Linked DNA regions of Homo sapiens. The protein of the gene in region 1 purifies or fractionates together with the protein of each later gene. This does not show direct contact. Each region holds a gene or a part of one and is shown on either strand. Other genes may lie near its edges.

Evidence for each region. The genes of interacting proteins can lie anywhere in the genome.
Region 2: the proteins of TINAG (region 1) and ZNF579 purify together in Homo sapiens (affinity purification with mass spectrometry; 2 studies listed by BioGRID and IntAct, with this or other methods). This does not show direct contact.
Region 3: the proteins of TINAG (region 1) and EPDR1 purify together in Homo sapiens (affinity purification with mass spectrometry; 2 studies listed by BioGRID and IntAct, with this or other methods). This does not show direct contact.

Annotation. Positions count from the first base shown.
Region 1 is NC_000006.12:54,381,424-54,388,449, reverse strand, and holds part of TINAG (tubulointerstitial nephritis antigen), read right to left. Parts: intron 2,543-7,026; coding exon of another isoform or gene 2,495-2,542; exon of another isoform or gene 2,324-2,494; intron 1-2,323. UniProt on the Homo sapiens protein: Mediates adhesion of proximal tubule epithelial cells via integrins alpha3-beta1 and alphaV-beta3. This is a non catalytic peptidase C1 family protein.
Region 2 is NC_000019.10:55,577,849-55,584,674, forward strand, and holds the start of ZNF579 (zinc finger protein 579), read right to left. Parts: upstream 3,001-6,826; 5' UTR 2,947-3,000; intron 2,295-2,946; exon of another isoform or gene 1,794-2,294; 5' UTR 1,792-1,793; coding exon 103-1,791; 3' UTR 1-102. UniProt on the Homo sapiens protein: May be involved in transcriptional regulation.
Region 3 is NC_000007.14:37,944,614-37,951,639, reverse strand, and holds part of EPDR1 (mammalian ependymin-related protein 1 isoform 1 precursor), read right to left. Parts: intron 2,801-7,026; coding exon 2,592-2,800; intron 1,441-2,591; coding exon 1,244-1,440; 3' UTR 1-1,243. UniProt on the Homo sapiens protein: Binds anionic lipids and gangliosides at acidic pH.

The DNA.
Region 1 (7,026 bases):
AACTTTAAGAAATAGCCAATTTTTATCAGCATTTCTTTTTAAGATTTGGCTGTTTGCCTCCTTAATCAACCCTGATACTTTAAAGGAGCACTCTCAAAACTATGTTTAAAATTGTAAGTTCAATTTATCATTTCAAAGATGAAATGGACTTTGAATAGCTGAGAAGGAAACAGCGTCAATGTGTGTGAGAGTTCTAGCACCAGTGAAATACACTAAATGTCAATTTTCATATTTTTTTAGTCAGTTCATATATCTGTATCTATATATCAAATAAAATTAGTCACAACCTAACAAATGGCTAGGAATAGTAATATTTGTAAATTCTTGCAAATATGATATATAACACTGAGCCTATTCTCATTTGGATGGCTGAAGATTATTACTATCCAAAATTTCATAATTACATTCTTGGTAAATATGGGAAAGGTATATAAAGATTGTATAAGCAAATGTGCATTTATGTGCTAATGAGAGCTAATCATATGTTTGCAAGAAAGGCCACATAATTATAAAGAGTAAGACACTGTAAAAATTAGTGCTAATAAAATACACCTCAGGACATGTATTTTGTTTATTAATCTTATTCTTCCTACTCTCATTTCTTCTATTTCAGCATTTATTTTGTTTGTTTCTTCCAAATGCCTACATTTGTTTGTATTTAATTATAAAGGAAATGGTGGCAATGAAGGGGAGAAAATTTCTAAAGATTTAACTTTTCATCTTTTGTATTGAGATATATGATACAGTCACATAGATAAAGTGTATTAATCTTAAGTATACAACTTAGTAAATTTATACATGTGTTTATGAAGTTTATGTTCATGTAATCTCCACTTAGATTAAGCTATTAACCACTTATAGCACCCCAGAAGGTCTACCATGTTGCCTTCCTGTCCATCCACCCTCCACTCCCCATCAGGTTTTCCTATAATTGATCTTTACAAAAATGGAATAATGCAAAATATATTGAGGTTGACTTTTTTTTAGCTCAAAATAATGTTTCTGGGATTCATCTATGTTTGGCATATGTAAGCAATTAATTCATCTTATTACTATTTATTTTCATTGTGTGACTATACCACAGTTTATCCATTCTCCTGGTGATAAACATGATGAACATAAGTAGCGGCTCCATTTACACATGCATCAGTAGTATAAGATTCTATTTACTCCAAATCCTCATCTATGCTGGATATTATCAATCCTTTTAATTTTAGCTAATCTAGTGTATATGAAGTGATATTTCATTGTGGTCTTAATTTGCATTTCCTTGATAATTAGTAACATTGACCATCTTTTCACATGGCTATTTAGGCCATTTGGATTTCCCCTTTTCTTGAAGTTTCTGTTTAAGAGTTCTATTTTATTGAGTTATCTTGGTCTTCCTATATATTTGTAAGAATGTCTATTTATTGTATATGTGAGGACTTGTCAGATACCTTTCCAGATAGATAGATAGATACATTTTTCTCATTCTGTGGCTTACTTTTTCTTATAATACTGTCTTTTAAATAGTTGTTCTTATTTTAATGTAGTCTGATAATTTATTCTTAAAAAGTTTATTTTGTGCCCGATTTAAGAAAGCATTTTCTAATAGATATCACAAACATATTTGCCTATGTTTTCTTCGAGAAACTTTATTATTTTGCAATTACATGGTCTCTGCTCCATCTCAAATTGTTTTTGTCTGTATTTAGTGAGGAAGTGATCTAGGTTTTTTTTTTTCATATGTATATAAAGTTTCTGTGACCTATGTATTGGCAAACCATGGCTCGTGGACCAAATGTGGCTCAAGAAGCCCCTTAAAAGAGGATTTAGAAGTCAGAAATTTTGTTTTTCCTAATGGTCTTGAAGATGTAAGGTACTCTGTTGAGAGAGGATCTGTAAAACTCTGTGTGAGGGAGCCACATGGAAGGAACTTCAGGCATCCTCTAAGATCTGAGAATATCCTCAGTCAGCAAGAAAATGGGGGCTTGGACCCACAACCAAAAAAACACGTCTACCAACAACCACGTGAGCTTGGAAGAGGGCTGTAAGCTCCAGAAAGGAACACAACTCAGACAACACTTTGATGGCATCCTTGTGAGATCATGAGCAGAGGATCCAGCTCGGTACACTGGATTTCTGACCCACAGAAACACTGCGATAATAAATGTATGTTGTTTCAATCTGCTAAATCTGTGATAGTTTGTTACACAACAGTAGAACAGTAAGTGCTGAATTTTATTAATGCATTTTCTGCACCAATTAAGATATTCAAGCCGGGTTCACTGGCTCACGCCTGTAATTCCAGCACTTTGGGAGGCCAAGGTGGGCAGATCACCTGAAGTCAGGAGTTTGAGACCAGCCTGGGCGACATGGCGAAACCCGTCTCTACCAAAAATACGAATATTAGCCAGGTGTGGTGGCGGGTGTCTGTATTCCCAGCTACTCGGGAGACTGAGGTAGGGAGAACTGCTTGAACCTGGGAGGTAGAGGATGCAGTTAGCCAAGATCACGACACTGCACTCCAGCCTGGACGACAGAGTGAGTGAGACTCCGTCTGAAAAAAAAAAAAAAAAAAAAAAAAATCATGTTTTTTTTTCTCCTTGACTCTTATAATTTGATGAACTATATTGATTGATTTTAGTACTTGAAACCAACCTTGCATTCCTAACATAAGTTTCACTTATGGAGTGTTATCCCTTTATATATTTCTTAATTGTAATATTTTGTTTGGAATTTTATGCTCATGAGAGATATCGGCCTATATTTTTTCTTTTTTGTATTGTCTTATCAAGTTTTGGTATTGGTGTTACCGCTTCATAAAATGAGTTTGGAAGTAACTGTTCCTTATTTCCTATTCCCTGAAAGGATTTGTTGTAAAATTCGTTTCATTTATTCCTTAAATGTTTGGAAAATTCACCAGTGAAGTCTTTTGAGCCTGAATTCCTCTGTGAAAGTAATTTAAATAGACTCATTTTTTTTTTCAAATTGTTCCATAACTATTTATGCTATTTTCATCCTGTGTAGGTTTTTGATAAGTTTTGTTTTCTGATAAATTTATCCATTTCATCTATATTTTCAATTATACTGGCATAACTTTTTAATAATATCCTCTTATTACCTACTTCATATCTATTGAATCTGCAGCAATGTTCTCTTTTTTCATTTCTATGGCAATTTGTCTCTCCTTGTTTCTTTTTCAGTCTTCCTAGACATTTAATCATTTTTTGCAAAGCATCAACTCTTTGCTTTTTTGATTTTCATCTATTATAATATGTCTGTTTTCTTTTACTTTTTTTTGCTTTTCTGTTTATTATTTCTTTCATTTATCTTCGGTTTAAATTTTTCAGCTTATTGAATTATTCTTTTCAACCTTTTAAAAATACATGAATCAATTTTAACCTTTCTTCTTTTCCAATGCATGCATTTTCTATTACATTCAGTAGTGCTTTAGCTAAATAACAAAAGTTTCATCATGGTATATTCTGTACAATTTCAATTTTTTAAATTTATTGAACATGCCCTATGGACCAGCATGTGGTCAATATTGGCAAATATTTCATGTGCACTTAAAGAGAATGTATATTCATCAATATTTATGTGTAATATCCTATGAATTTCAATGACATAAAGCTGGCTAATAGTTTTTTTCAATCTTTCATACATTTACTTATTTTTAGCTGCTATTTCTATGAGATACTGAGATATGTTTAAATATTTGCCTACTTTTTTTCTGTAACTTTTGGTGTATGTTTTTTTGGAATTGTGTTATTTCAGCTTTTGTCCAAACGTGCTTTAATTTTGTATTTATTTTGGAGAAAAATGTCACCATGTATAAAATTCCATGTTGGCACGTTATCTTCATCATTATCAATATTATTATTTTATCCAGCATTTTAGCAATGTCATTTTGCAGTCTTCTACTTTCCTTTTTTATTGTTGTTGTTGAAATGCCAGCTGTCAGTCAGTGCTGCTTTTTTTGAGAATAATGTGTCATTTTAAATAGTGACTTTTTAAATTTCTATTTTTTATCTTCAGCTGTTTGATCGTGAAAAGTTTGAGTGTGATTTTCTTGCAATGTTTGCATTCATGAATTCAGGAACTCATTTTTTATTATAATTTAAGTTCTGGGGTACATGTGCAGAACATGCAGGTTTGTTACATAGGTATACACATGCCACGGTGGTTTTCTGCACCCATCAACTCATCATCTACATTAGGTATTTCTCCTAATGCTATCCCTCTCCTAGCCCCCCACCCGTGAACAGGCCCCAGTGTGTGATGTTCCCCTCCCTGTGTCCATGTGTTCTCATTGTTCAACTCTCACTTACGAGTGAGAACATGTAGTGTTTGGTTTTCTGTTCCTGTGTTAGTTTGCTGAGAATGATGGTTTCCAGCTTCATCCATGTCCCTGCAAAGTACATAAACTCATCCTTTTTTATTGATGCGTAGTATTCTATGGTGTATATGTGCCACATTTTCTTTATCCAGTCTATCATTGATGGGGATATGGGTTGGTTCCAAGTTTTTGCTATTGTGAACAGTGCTGCAATAAACATGTGTGTGCATGTGTCTTTATAATGGAATGATTTATAATCTTTTGGGTATATACCCAGTAATGAGATTGCTGGGTCAAATGGTATTTCTGGTTCTAGATTCTTGAGGAATTGCCACACTCTTCCACAATGGTTGAACTAATTATAGATTGAAATTCTCCATCTTTTCATCTAGATTTTTCTTAATTTTTTAAAATAATGGTTATTTTAAAGCCTACATCTAAAGTATCATCTATTGCTTCTATTGATAGTATTTTTCCCTTGGTTGCTGGTCACATCTTTCTGCTTCACTTGTCTCATAATTTAACTCAAACAAACCATAGCATGCCTATTACAAACCCAGTCCTCACTTTATGCCCAAACCTACCAAATGCTCCTAGGCCAAAAATTTTTCTCCAGATTTAGCACTCTCATTTTTTTAAAAACACAATTTTGGAAAAATTCTGCTATTTTCTACTTATTTAGTAGAATTTATGGCTTGCTGCTATGTATTACATTTTACTCAGTAGTGAAAGACTTTCAATATTTTTATTATAAAAATAGGTTTATATCATAGGACTATTTGTAAATGCTTTGAAACATCCATATATAATTGTGCAGAAATAAAACTTTCCTAGATTTCTCAGTGCTCTTGAATAAAGTTTTTGCTTTCCTGACCCACAAAACATTGTATATAATATAAAGATAGGGAATGTTTTCTTTCACTTCTCCCAAAAATATTCTACTCTTCGCATACCTTGACAATTAGATATGTAGCCATTCATCTAGTTTAATGATCTGATCTGAAGGGATAACAAAACTTCTCTTATCTCCTCTAGAGGCTCAAAGAGAGCAGAGACAAGGTCCTAAATTAAGCTTTAAGGTGTCAGAAGTGTGGGGACATTATATCCTTTGGTATTTACATCTCAAAAGAAATGCAGCCCATCATCTGGAGACTTTATTTGCTGTCTAGCTGGACCTTGGAAAGATATGTTTATATTCCTAATGTTTATGGTGAGAAGATAGGTTCCTCTTCAACTCATCATAATGGAATGAAAGATTTTTCCTTCCTTTTGGGAAAGGAGGAATCTGCTTGTCTCTCTCCTGTAAACAAATGGAGAAAATCTATTGTTCTTTGTCCATCATTTATGAGACATACACTGCTACCTGTGTAGACAAATTTTATTGGTTCTTATCACATCACTGTAAGACTAAGGTGTGGGAGATGCATGCTGCTATGTTACTCTGGTTGTCGATCTATTTATGAGTATCTGTTAAGAACTCCTTACTTCTGACCCAGGTGTTGTATCTCTAGTTAGGTCTATATCTATACCAATATCTATATCATCTATATCTGTGGGATAATATCTCAGACCTTTCACAATTCTTCACAAAACAGTACAACAGTACTTAAAGTTTCATATTTTAATTAAACCACTAGTATGTTTTATAAAAAATAAAATTATTTTAATTACTTGATTAGTTTTTCCTGAATGCATAGACTAAAATTATTCATTTGCTCATTCAATGAGTATTGTTTATATTCTCACTATGTACCAATCAAAATACTTTACCCTTGAGATACATTGGTAAATAAGTCAAATATGATCCTGACTCATGAGGAGAACACAGTTCAGTAGAGAAAAAAGCCTCAATTAATGTGCAAAATATTATAAATTTTAGTCTGATTCTTGTATTTCTACTGCTTGCATTCAACAATTTATCAAACAAATCATAGCAGAAAGAAATCTTACCCCTAGCCTCATGAAATAAAATTTTCTTTGAAGATGTTTGATAAGTAGTAAGTTCAGAATCGATAGTAAGTACAACAATGTAGTTAAAAGGGATAGTGTGCATGTATGTGTTAAATATATGAAAATGAGTGAGTAGATAATCATACTCAGCGTATGTGTATGTGTGTGTGTGTACACATATACACTACCTAGAGGTAGGGATCTAGGGTGGGAATGATCAGGTTGAGGATGAAAGGATCACAAAACATTTTCCTCTGCACATTCGTTCATATTCACTCAGCAAATGGCCATCAAGTGCTATATGCTAAGAACTGTTGTGAGTTAAATACATTAATCAAAGAACTTGATTTTTTCTCTAAATATTACATCGTTATGAGATTAAAAAACTGTTCAAATTTATTTAATAAAAATCCTATGCAGAAACTTAATAGTAGGTATTCAAATAACATATCCTAGTTTATAACTTATTTATTTTAACTATTGGACATTAATGTTGATTGTTGGCTACTAATTATTTTATTTTAATGAGAAAAATTATATTTTTAAAAGCACAGTTTAAATATAAAGAAGAATCCTTCTACTTAAAAGCATCATACCTCCATGTATCAACAACACAAATATAAGGTACGAACACATAATTGGGTGATTGAATTCTGTGAGTGCCTTATGAAGAAATATACCAAGAGTCATTCTGATGAGTACAAGTTCTAGCACCTAGTGCTTTGTAAGCCAAAATATGCCCTCTACTGTGT
Region 2 (6,826 bases), on another chromosome or scaffold:
GGGACGGGTGGGTAGACAGAGGAGGTGGCTCCTTCAACTTCCCTCCTCCATTCTGCAAACCGGGGAGCTCAGGCGGAGCGGCGGAGGGCAGGGCGGCGAAGGTCAGGAGGCCAGGCCCCCCAGCCCGCGCAGGTGAGCCTTGCTGTCTACCTCTTCCTCCTCCATCTCGAAGGCTGAGTGGTCTTGGCTGTCGAAACAGGAGGCGCTGAGGAAGACAGGGGGAGCCGGCGGGGACTGGGGTGGGGTCCCCGGAGAGGGCGGCTCTTCCTTAATGTTTGCGAGGGGCAGCGGGAGCCCTTCTTCCTCCTGCTCGGCCTTCAGGGGCGGCGGGGGCGGTGGCGGCGACGTCGGGGCCTGGGCCTGCAGTGCCTGCAGCGCGGCGGCCCTCTCCAGCTCTGCGCGGTGGCAGCGCTGGTGGCGCAGGAGGCTGTAGGCGCGCGAGAAGCGGCGCGGGCAGCGGGGGCACGGGTGCGGGGCTGGGCCCCCCGCGTGCACCTGTGCGTGGCGCGCCAGGTCGGCCAGGCGCTTGAACTCCCGCTGGCAGCGCACGCACTGGAAGGGGCGCGCTCCCGAGTGGGTCACCCCGTGCTGCCGCAGGTGCGCCCGGCGCCTGAAACCTTTGCCGCACTCTGGGCACCAGAAGCGGGGCTCCCCGGCGGGGGGCCGAGCCGGGGCGGCGTCGCCTCCGTTCTGCCCTTCTCCCCCTTCCGAGGCACCCCCGCACTCCGCCCCCTCGCCCCCCTCCGGCCCCTTGGCTGAGTTCCGTGCACCCGAGGCCTTGTCGTCCTTCTTGCCCGCCGCGGGCAGCGGGGCCAGCAGGCTGAGGGGGCCGTGGACGCGGCGGTGCTGGCGGAGGTAGGAGGCGAGGCGGAAGGCCAGGCCGCAGTCTGGGCACACGAAAGGGCGGTCGGTGGAGTGGACCAGCCGGTGGCGCGACAGGGACCAGGGCCTGGCGAAGGCCTTGAGGCAGATGGAGCACTGGTGTCGCTTGGGGCGTGGCGGGGGCCCCCCTTCCCCTTCCTGTTCGCCCTCGGGGCGCAGACACGGGTGCGCCTTGAGCTCGCCCTTGGTGGCGAAGGCTTCGCGGCAGCGCAGACACAGCAGCGTCCAGTCTGCCTGGAGCAGGACCTGTTTCTCCTCCTGCCGCCCGGCCGCCAGCGCCAGCTCGGCCCTCAGCTCTGCTGCCCCGGCCTCGGCCTCCTCCGACTCCGACTCCCGGGGCTCCGCGGCGCTGGTGGGCGCAGCCAGCGTGGAAGGCTCCCCCGCAGGCCACGTCTCAGGCCACGCTGCGACCGCCTCCTCCTCCGTGGCCCCTGCTGCAGCGGTGGTGGGCGGCTCCGAGCCCTCGTCCTGCGGGCCCCAGCTGGGTTCGGCCGTCTCCTTGGCCACCCTCTCGATGGCCAGCTCGACCTCGCCGCCCGCGTGCTCCTGAGCCAGGTGGCGCCTGAGCTGGGCCGGTTCTGGGAAGGTGCGGGGGCAGGCGGCGCAGCGCAGCGGGGGCTGGGGCCCGTGGCCGCGCAGGTGGCGGGAAAGGTGGGCCGGCCGGCGGAAGGCCTTGGGGCACAGCGGGCAGGCGTGGGGCCGGAGCCCCGAGTGGCTCAGCCGGTGCCGGGAGAGGTAGTAGGGGAAACGGAAGAGGCGGCCGCAGGTGGGGCAGGGCAGGGGCGCCCTAGGGGCTCCAGCGCCCCCCCTGCCACGGCCACGGCCCCGACCACGGCCTCGGCCACGGCCCCGGCCTCGGCCACGGTGAGGTGGGCTGCCCTGGGCGGGTGGAGGAGGCTGCGGATCCATGCCTGTGGGGAGAGAGGGGAGAGATGGGAAGCGGGGCAGAGATAAAAAGAGGTGCGTGGGGTGTGGCAGAAAGAGAAGCAGAGACAGTCAGAGATGGAGAGGCAGAGAGGGTCAGGTATTTAGCCAGGAGAGAGATATGAGACAGAGACAAAGATGAGAGACACCGAGGGGAGGCCAGAGATGGAGAGACAGGAGGAGAGAGATCAGAGACAGAGCGACAGAGCAGGGAATAGAGACAGGAGAAGGCAGAGATGGGAGACACAGAGAAGTGGGGATGGACAGACAGAGACCAGGAGTCGCAGAAAGACAGGATGGTGAAAGGCAGAGCAGAGAAGAGACAGAGGAGAGTGAGGAACACCCAGCAGAGAGACAGAGACACAGAGAAGAGGAAACAAAGAGACTTGGAGAACCAGAGGCAGAGATAGTGCAAGAGCAGAGATCAGAAGAGCAGTGGCGGGTTGGGGGCCGGAGAGACAGGGAGACAGAGACACAGAGGGAGTGAACTGGGCAGAGGCACGGAGGGGGACAAAGTCAGCGAACCGCTTCTGCTCCAGGTCCCCCGGCCAGGCTGAACGTTTTGGGAGGGGCTGGGACACAGCCCATGGGGCCTGAGTGGAGGGGGTGGGATTTGAAGCCGGTAGGCCCCGGAAATAGAGTGTGTTCTCAGATGCCAGGGGCTGGGAGAGGTCGGGGAGTAGGAGGGTTCAGACTTCTGGTCTGAGTTGGGAGGGGGCTAGGGGCCCAGACTCTTGGGACTGATGGGGATGGGAGCTGGGGATTGAGACTCCTGGGTCCAGGTCATGACGGATTGGGGAATCTGGACTCTGGTATGGAGGAGGTGTGGATTCCTGGGTCCCGGTGGAGGAGGGGCTGGGGAGGGGGCTGGGCTCCCAGGACAAGGGGGAGGCGGGGGCTGGGGACCCAGCTGCCGGGAATCCCCAGGGAGGAGGCGACTGAGGGCCGGACCCCTGGACTCGGGAGGGAGGCTGGTGGGGGTCGGGGGTCCCAGGTCCTAGAGGGGGGCCGATCTCCTCCGGGCCAAGCCTGCAGCTCCCCGAAGGCATGATCAGCAGAATTGGGGCCGGGTCGAGGCCTTGAGGATTTCTCAGCCCTGGGCCTGGGGCTTGGTCCTGGTCGCTGGGGCTGGGTTCTTACCTCGCCTCCTTGGCTCCTTTCTTCCTTCCCCACGGCCGGCCAAACGCGGACGGTGGTGGCGGGGAGGGAGGGGGGCCTGAGCGTGGTGGGGGGTGGAGGAGGAGGCTGGGCTCGGTGTCACTGCCTAAGCCTTCCCCCCGGAAACCTGGCCTTTCCTCGGAGCCTGAAAGAGGAAAGACTGGCTGGGAAGCCGGAAGCGGGAGGACGGGGGACCTGGAGAGGGGAGGGAAGGCAGCTTGCACTACAGGGTCCTGTGAGGGGAGGGGGCTGGGGGCCTGTCCCCCGGGCTCCCAGAGGGCGGAGGGTGCTGAGGGCCTGGAACACTGGGTCCAGCTACTCCCGGCTCCCCAACATGCACACACACATATTCATTCATTCCTTCAACAAATACACATTTATCAGGTCCTGTCTGTGCCAGGCACTGTGTCAGGCCAGGGGAGTGGCCGGGGGAGGAAGATGAATGAATCAGTGACAGAGGCTTCAGGAAGTACTGGCACTCTGGATCAGAACCTGGCTCCAGCCTTCCCTTGGCTGTCTGGGTGAAGGATTCTCCCACTTCGAGCCTCGGTTTCCCCCTTTGTGAAAGCCCCTGCATATACTCATTCAACCCTAAGCGACCAATATTTACTGAATATCTACTACGGGCCAGCCTGCATATATTTGTCTACATATACGCATATTCACTGGGACCTTAGCAGCCAATGTTTACTGAGCACCTACTATGGGCTGGTGCTGTCCTTGGTGCTGGAGTCACAGTGGCAAAAACCGGAGCTCACTGTCTGATGGGGAAGGCAGATAGATACGGATCAATCACGCTGGAGTGCATGTGGGGGAACGTGTGCTCCGAGGCAGGGAACTGCTATGGGAATGCAGAGAACAGAAGGCACTGAGCTGAGCTCACACTGGGAGGAGGTGATTCCTGAGGTCTTCCTGGAGGCAGCAATGTTTCAGCTGAAATTGGCAGAATGAAACCAACCTGGCGACATCTCAGAAACCTATTCTGGAGCAGAAAAGGCATTTTGCAGGAGTATACCCACAGCTTGACGCTGTTTGTTTAAGGTTACATTCCTGCCAAACAGTGCTAATGAGAGTGCGAGCAAACAGGTCCTTTCATACACGGCTGGGGCAAGTAGAACCTGGAACATTCTTACCGAGCCAGCAATTCCAGGAATTTATTCTTCAGAGGCATCTACTCGGAACTGCACAAAATAATGTCTGCACCAGGTTAATCATTGCAGTACTGCACATCACTGCAAACAGCTGAAACCAATCTAAACACCCATCTGTAGGAGAGCTGAGTAATAAATCATGACTGATCCACCCAGTGGAATACTAGGTGTCCATAGAAAAGAACAAAGAAGCTCACCGTGTGCATATATGGTAAGTCTCCAAGTGATAACCTGTAGAAGAGAAAAATGGAAGGTCAAGTACAGCCTGCAGCCTGTTCTGGGTTTGTGTGTGTTCTGGGATTGTGTCCAGATGAACTGGAACAAGAGAGAAGAAACTGAAACTGGCAACATAGTCTAACTTCCAGGACAGAAATTTACTACACTCTATCCTTGTTTTTTTGTTTGTTTGTTTTTTTTTGTTTTGTTTTGTTTTCTTTTGAGATGAGATCTCCTTCTGTTGCCCAGGCTGGCTGGAGGAAGTGCAGTGGTGTGATCTCGGCTCACTGCAGCCTCGACCTCCCGGGCTCAAGCAATCCTCCCACCTCAGCCTCCTGAGTAGGTGGGGCTACAGGAGTGTGCCACCATGTCTGGCTAATTTTTGTATGTTTTGTAGAGATGGGGTCTCCCTATGTTGCCCAGGCTGGGCTTGAACTCCTGGGCTCAAGCAATCCACCTGCCTCGGCCTCCCAAAGTGCTGGAATTACAGACATTAGCCACTGTGCCCGGCTTTTTGTACTTTTTGAATTCAAAACCGTGTGAATGTGCTATATACTCAAAAAAGTAAAGGAGGCCAAGCATGGTGGCTCACGCCTGTAATCTCAGCACTTTGGGAGGCCCAGGTGGGCAGATCACCTGAGGCCAGGAGTTCAAGACCAGCCTGGCCCACATGGTGAAACCCCATCTCTACAAAAGGTACAAAAATTAGCCAGGCATAATGGCACATGCCTATAATCCCAGCTACTCAGGAGGCTGAGGCAGGAGAATGGCTTGAACCTGGGAGGCAGAGGTTGCAGTGCGCTGAGATCGTGCCATTGCACTCCAGCCTGGGCAACAGAGCAAAACTCCACCTCAAAAAAAAAAAAAAAAAAAAAAAGAAAAGAAAAAAGTAAAGGAAAAAGAAATACATGGGGATTATAAAAATAAATGAAATGAAAAATAATAGCTTACTCTTGTGAGCGTATTACAAATATGATCCCATTTACTCCTTGCTTTATGAAGTAGGTACCATTATTTTTCCCTTTTACAGAGGATGAAAGTGAGATACTAGAAGTTTCCAAACCTAGCGAGTCTCAGTAAGAAGTTTCACTTCACAAACAGATAGGAGAAATGATAGTGGATCAGAAGCATGATTTAAAAGAAATAATAAAAGGCCGGGCGTGGTGGCTCATGCCTGTAATCCCAGCACTTTGGGAGGCCGAGGGAGGCAGATCACTTGAGGTCAGGAGTTCAAGACCAGCCTGGCCAACACGGTGAAACCGTCTCTACTAAAAATACAAAAATTAGCTGGGCATGGTGGTGCGCGCCTGCAATCCCAGCTAGTCCGGAGGCTGAGGCAGGAGAATCGCTTGATCCTGGGAGGCGGAAGTTGCAGTGAGCCGAGATCGTGCCACTGTACTCCAGCCTGCGACAGGGCAAGACTCCGTCTCAAATAAATAAATAAATAAATAAATAAATAAATAAATAAATAAATAAAATAGGAATGGGGTCTCACTCTGTTGCCCAAGCTAGTCTTGAATTCCTGAGCTCAAGCAATCCTTCCACCTCAGCCTCCGAAAGTGCTGGGATTACAGGCATTAACTACCGTGCCCAGACTAGGAGCATGCTTTTTAAAAGCACCTTGTCCATAATACTATATTTTAAAGAATATATACCATGGAATAAAAGTCTAAAAATGTCTGTGGTAATAATAGGCACCAAATTCAAGATATAAGTTATGTTTGAGATAGGAGAGGCAATCAGATCTTGGAGGGGGTGGTCCGCGGGGAGTCATTTGTATCCCTAATATTTCAAAGCTGGTAGTCAGAATATGGGTGTGTGTATTTTAACATGTTTTTTGTAAAATACACTTAAACTTTATAATTGTAACCATTTTAAATCACACAGCTCAATGGCACTAAGTAAATGTTGCACAACTATCCACGCTGTCTAGTTCCAGAACTCTTTTTTTTTTTTTTTTTTTGAGACAGAGTTACACTCTTGTTGCCTAAGCTGGAGTGCAATGGCGTGATCTCGGCTCACCGCAATCTCCGCCTCCTGGGTTCAAGCGATTCTCCTGCCTCAGTCTCCCAAATAGTTGGGATTACAGGCATGTGCCACCATGCCCAGCTTATTTTGTATTTTTAGTAGAGACAGGGTTTCTCCATGTTGGTCAGGCTGGTCTCAAACTCCCGACCTCAGGTGATCCACCTGCCTTGGCCTCCCAAAGTGCTGGGATTACAGGCGTGAGTCTCTTTCTTTCTTTCTTTCTTTCTTTTTGTAGATATGGGGTTTTGCTTTGTTCCCTAGCCTCATCTGAACTCCTGGTCTCAAGCCATCCTCCCACCTGAGCCTCCTAAAGTGCTAGGATTACAGGCGTATGCCACCATGTCCAGCCTAGTTCCAGAACCTTTTCATCAGCCCAAACAAACCCTAAGCCCATTAGCAGTCATTCCCACACTCCCTTCTATCCCCAGCCCCTGTCAACTAATAATCAGTTTTCTGTCTCTATGAAT
Region 3 (7,026 bases), on another chromosome or scaffold:
ACATTCAACACATAAGGAAACCAGGGACAAGAGAGGCTGGCATTCTTCACTCTACGAATACTTAGGGCACTGACTATGTGCCAGGCACTTGCTTTGTGCTAGGGATATAAAAGTAAACATACAAGGTACCCGTACCCAAGGAGCTCACAGCCAAGATAATGGATGAGTGTCCTGAAAGCAGAAATTATCACACAGCTTAATAATTATTGTGAGAAATGCATGCTCAAGATGCAAGGTGCAACTCATCCAGGCTTGGGAGCAACTCTTGTGAATGAGCTGACCTGGAAGGAGATGCAGAAGTCAGACAGAGAGGTTATGAAGCAGTGTTCTAGGAAGGCCAAAGTGCGGGCAAGCCCAGTGCATTTAATGACCAAAGGAGTGACAGTACGAGGGAACTCTAGTCCTGGGTTTAGGAGACAATAGTCTCCTGACTCCCTGTTCAGTGCTATTTTAGAATACTGCCTGTGTATTGACAAGTCTGTGAAGATTCAGCACATACATCAATACTCTTGCATAGAAAAAAAAGAAGCTTACATGGCTCGTGCTATGCCAGTGTAGACATTAGGATTCTCTAAACTGCCTTGCTCAAAATGTTTCTTTAGAGGAATAATTACTTCCTATTTTAGCTTTTCATTTCCTTCTAAATGTTTATATCAATTGGGCCATGCCATAAAATTCTTAAGTCTGGAAGGGATTTAAGTTATCATTTTTTTGGCAACCAAGGGAGTGCAGGGACAGGGTGGAGTAGGGCTCAGTGGGAGCAATGCCAACCCTGGTGCAGCAATAAAGGGGGCATTCTCTGCAGGGAATTTAAGAATTAATAATAAAATTGACCAAAATCACTCTGCTTTTTATTATCACTAATTCTGAATAATGTCAACAATAAATACTTGCTGCCAAGGCAAACTTCTCTTACTGACCCTTCCCTATGTGCATGGCACTGCATTATGTGTATACCCGTGCATGCAGAAAACCAGCCCTGAACAGGCATTAGAAATACCCAAAGTGTCCATATTAGCCATCTAGTCAGTTCATATGGCCACACCCTCGCCATTCAATTTTCTTCTGTAAACAGAGCTTGAGTAGTCAAAATCAGACACATCAAAACCCCACATCAATGTGCATCTTCCTAAAATTATATTTCTCTCCAATTAGCATTCACATCTTGACTAGTCTCATATCCATCTCCAGCTGGGGCCGCAGGGGGCTGACATCCGATGCTGCCGCTTCCCTATGCACAGGCTCACCAGGAGCAGTCTTCGCTCATCTTCTCCAGTTGGGCCATCTGGCACGTGCTTGGAGGGGTAAACACCGAGGGGTCTTTAATACCCAGCTGGATGTCAAAAAACCGCGTAGACAATATCACACTGTAGTTTATGGTAAAGGTTTCCTGGACAGGATAGCAATCCTTGACTGTATAGATGCCAATCCAGGTTTCATCTATAAGAGGAAAAAAGTTGACTTTTAAATAAAGAAGACAGGCAAGAAGTTCATATTTTTTCTTATGGTGGTAAAATGTACATAACATAAAATTTACCATTTTACCATTTTTAAGTGTTTGGTGGCCTTGAGTACATTCACATTTGTTGACCATCAGCACCATCCATCTCCAGAACTTTTTTCATCTTCCCAAACTGAAACTCTGTCTCCATTAAACACGAACTTCCCATTCCTCCTCTCCCAGCTCCTGGAACTCATCATTCGATTTTCTGTCTCTATGAATTTGACGACTCTACATACCTCATGTAAGTGGGATTGTACTGTATTTGTCATTTTCTGCCTGCATTGTTTCTCTTAACATTATGTCCTCAAGGTTTACTCAGGCTGTAGCATGTGCTGGTGTTTCCTTCCTTTTTAAGGCTGAATAATATTCTGTTGTATGACTATACCAGATTTTGTTTATCCATTTATCTGTTGATGAACATTTGGGTTTCCACCTTTTGGCAATTGTGAATAATGCTGCTGTGGACATGGGTGTACAAATATCTGTTTGAGTCTCTGCGTTCAATTCTTTGGGGCATATATATATATACAGAAGTGGAGTTGCTGGGTCATATGGCAGTCTTATCTTTAATTTTTTGAGAAATCACCATACTGTGTTCCACAGCATGAATGCCTGTGTGGTAAAAACTGTCTTGGGATAGGCGTATATCAGCAGCAGGGCAGAGAATGGCTTCACATAAAAGTAGGCTGGTTTGCACACTCAGCATGATGGGAGTAGATTTGACCCCTGCAACTTTAGGAAGTGGGGGAAAGAAAAGGAGGCACCCAATTCAAATGTGTGCCTTAGACAGATGCCTTCCATGTCACAGACCTCGGGACGACCATAAAATGTCAAAATCAAGGCTAAGTTCACAGGAGCCAAAGTGGCAGAGAGGTGCAGGTGGCACTAGAAGGCTGAGGTGTTTCAAATATGAAGCTTAGATCCCGTTGCCACATAGTGAGCAAAGTAACCTGCAGACCTAAGTGGAGGCTTTAAAAAATTTTTGATTAAGCGGATGTTTCCCTAAAAACTACCTTCCTTAAAGGACTTAAACCTTTTTCCCCATCATGCATGCTGAATACAATGCTTAGATTCTTTGAACCCTTACAGGATCTAGCTGACTTTCTGTCCGACCACTCCTGGACGGTGATCTGCTCCTGAGGCCCCCCGATGGAGTACTGGTCTTCAAAGGTGGAGTTTTGAGGAATGTCAAGAGGATCCCAGGGCTGTGTCAGGGTCATCTTTGAGCACTGCTTGGTGGCTTGGTCAATCTGAAACATCACTCCATCCTTATACAGCAAAATATATTCAAATAATCTGAAACACAGATGGAAAGAAGTAGTTTGGGACTTCATGTTACCATCCTCGTGCCTTTTAACAGCACAAACACCTTTGATAGATATTACTTTTAAAATAGAAAGAAATTACTAGCTAGGCAATCACTTAACGTTTATAAACACTAGGCACATGAAACAACCTGCATATGAAATAATTAGAATTCACAGGTCAGACCGAGCATGATGGCTCATCCCTGTAATCCCAGCACTTTGGGAGGCCGAGGATGGAGTACGTTTTGAGCCCAGGAGTTTGAGACCGGCCTGGGCAACATAGTGAGACCCCTGTCTCTAGAAAAAAAATTTTAAAAATTAGCCAGACATGGCAGTGCACAGCTGTAGTCCCAGCTACTTGGGAGGTTGAAGTAAGAGGATCACTTGAGCCTGGGAGTTCAAAGCTTCAGTGAGCCATGATCATGCCACCGCACTACATACAGCCTGGGTGAGATCCCGTCCACCATCAAAAAAAAAAAAAAAAAATTGAGGTCAAAAGTGTATATTCACTGGGCAAATTTTGACCAAGGACCTAGTATATGCCAGACCCTGTGCTTAGCATACAAACATGGGGAAGATATGGCTCCGGCTGAAGAGCTGGTTTGTGAACTTTTGTTTACCCACAGAGACACAGGAGGACTTGACTCTTGTGTGGTGCATTTTCTCTCACAGCACTCAGTCAAGGAATTATGGGGGTATACTGAACATAGGACAAGAACACACTGAGGACTGGATGGACCGAGTGCCTGTGCTTCACTGCCTCCACTGCCGAGCAGTCATGAGTAAGGGGCTTTGATGCGCATAGCTGATCCGGCACGGGCGCAGCCCACATACCCTGCAGTGGCTGAGATGAGAGCAAAGACAAAAGCTGAGGCGACCCCAGAGCAAATGACTCCCTTAGCTGAGTTTCTCTCCATGCTCTCAGCCTCCTCCCGTGACCACCTGCTCACCCTTCCTGGGGAGTGACAGGGAGATATTCAGAGGCTGAGCCCAGGAGTCACCAGCCATGCAGTATTGGCATCAGTCCTGTATCTTCCTTAAAGCTGAGACATCTTGGTGTTGGGGGAAGCCTGCTGTGTTTCTATGCATTTCACTGTCAATCTAAAACTCAGGCCACAGCTGCTGGTCAAGAAAATGTGTCTTGCAGCCATGACCTCAGAAAGTGAAATCTGCAACACTTGAGGGCTGAAGAGCCTAGAGAAGTGACTTGTCATCAGCAAATAAAAATAGCCAACAAATTATCTGTGGCTTATGAGACCCAATGCACTAGAGGAGACTTCAGGGAAGACATTTGCTCTCCAGCCCAAGCCCGAGCTTAAAAACTATTTTCTTCGGAAAAAAATGTTAGAAATGGTTACTGTCTTTATAGTCAAAACACAGTCGTGCGTCACTTCATGATAGGCTTATGTTCTGAGAAATGTGTCATTAGGCTATTTCATCACTGCACGAACATCATAGAGTGCAGTTACACAAATCTGGATGGTACAGCCTACTACACAACAGGGCTACACAGTATGGCCTACTGCTCCCAGGGTACAAACCTGTACTGCATGTGACTGCACTAAATACTGGAGGCAACTGTAACACAATGGTAAGCATTTATGTATCTAAACATAGAAAAGGTGCAGTAAAAATATGGGATAAAATATAAAAAATGGTACGCATGTATAGGGTACTTGCCATGAATGGAGCCTGCAGGACTCGAAGTTGCTCTGGGTAGGTGAGTGAGTGAGTGAGTGGTGACAGAATGTGAAGGCCTAGGACATTTCTATACACTTCTGTAGGCTTTATAAACATTGTACACTTAGGCTACACTAAATTTATAAAAACTATGTTCCTTTCTTCAATAATACATTAATTTTAGCTTCCTGTAACTTTTTAACTTTATATACATTTTGATTTTTTAAACTTTTTGACTCTTTTGTAGTAAGACAGCTTAAAACACAAATTGCACAGCTATACAAAAATATTTTCTTTATGTCCTTATTTGATATGCTTTTTTCTATTTTAAAATTTATTTTATTAAAAAAAAAACTTTGTGTTAAAAATTACAACACAAACACAGATATTAGCCAGGCCTACACAAGGTTAGGATCATAAGTATCACCCTCTTTCACTCCCACATCTTGTCCCACTGGAAGGCTGTCAGGGCCAGTAACATGCATGGAGCTGTCACCTCCTATAATAACAATGTTTTCTTCTGGATACCTCCTGAAGGACCTGCCTGAGGCAGTTTCACAGTTACCTTTTATGTAAGTGGGAGCACACTCTAAAATAACGATAAAAGTATAATATAGTAATTACATACATGTGGCCAACAAACATAGGAAAAAAAGCCCAACATCACTGATCATTAGAAAAATGCACATCAAAAACACAAAAAGACACCATCTCATGCCAGTCAGAATGGCTATTAATAAAAAGTCAGAAAACAACAGATGCTGGCGAGGTTGTGGAGAAAAAGGAACACTTTTACACTGTTGATGGGAGTATAAATTAGTTCAACCATTGTGGAAGACAGCGTGGCAATTCCTCAAAGACCTAGAACCAGAAATACCATCAACCCACCAATCCCATTACTGTGTATATACCCCAAGGAATATAAATCATTCTATTCTAAAGATACATGCATACCTGTGTTCATTGCAGCACTATTCACAATAGCAAAGACGTGGAATCAACCTAAATGCCATCAATGATAGACTGAAAATGTGGATAAAGAAAATGGGGTACATATACACAATGGAATACTATGCAGCCATAAAAAGGAACAAGATCATGTCCTTTGCAGGGACATGGATGGAGTTGGAAGCCATTATCCTCAGCAAATTAACACAGAAACGGAAAAGCAAATACTGCATGTTCTCACTTATAAGCGGGAGCTGAATGATGAGAACAAATGGACGCGTCGGGGAAGCAACACACACTGGGGCCTGTTGGTGGAGCTTGGGGGAGGGGGAGCATCAGTAAGAATAGCTAATGGATGCTGGGCTTAATACCTAGGTGATGGGATGATCCGTGCAGCAAGATACCATGGCACACGTTCACTTGTGTAACAAATCTGCACATCCTGCACATGTACCCCTGACTTAGAATAAAAGTTGAAGAAAAAAAAGTATAATACAGTAATTACTTATATGCTAGAATTGTGTACAACTGACAGCACAGTAAGTTTGTTTACACCACCACCACCCCAGACATGTGAGTAATGCACTGCGCTACCACATACTATGGCTATGAGGTCACTAGGCAATGGAAGTTTTTCAGCTCCATTGTAATCTCATGGGACCACCACTTCATTGACTGAAACGTCATTATGAAGCACATCATTGTATTATTAGTAGCCGTATGCTTCAGGTTTCTATGAGGTAGTATGGAAATATAAACATGACATCATTTTACACCTTTATGTGTATCTTGTTTATTTCAGAAAAGATTTGAAACGGCTTACAAGGGTAAAAATAACCCAGACACATACCTTTAGAAATGAGAATGAATATAGAAAGAAATATAAGTGTGCATTTTATGAGATATTGCTCAAAAATGGAGCTAATTTTTTATAATATGCATGCAGGGTCAACGTAAAACTGTTAGCCCTTTGAAAAAGTTTGGGTTTGGATTGTCACTGTTTTCTCATAACCAGCTAAATCTCTGACACAATAGAGCCTAAGCACTGATTGAAGAAACACAGCAACATTAACCCAACTCTTAGAGCATTGTTCATTTGTAAATATGGGAATTGTTGTCCATACACAAATCCTGTCCTGTGATACTTTTAATGACCCGTGGGCCACCCAAAAAACAAGTTGTCTTCATTGTTCTCCTCACCACCAGCAATATCTTGTGCTTTCCCCAGTGCTAGATATCTGGGCTAGAAAGGCATTCCTAGCTTTTGCTGATATCCCTGTTGTGTGCTTCTCAGACTGCAATAGTTGTTCCCTGGAGAATATGTAGCCATGTGCAGGAGAGGGGGTTTCCTTCTTGAAATCATCGCCATCACTCCCCAAATCCACAGGATCACAGAAGTGTCATTAATATGGTTTGGCTGTGTCCCCACCTAAATCTCATCTTGAATTGTAGCTCCCATAATTCTCATGTGTCATGGGAGGGACCTGGGGGGAGGTAATTGAATAATGGGCACGGTTCTTTCCCATGCTTTTCTTCTGGTAGTGAATAAGTCTCACAAGGTCTGATGGTTTTATAAATGGGAATTCC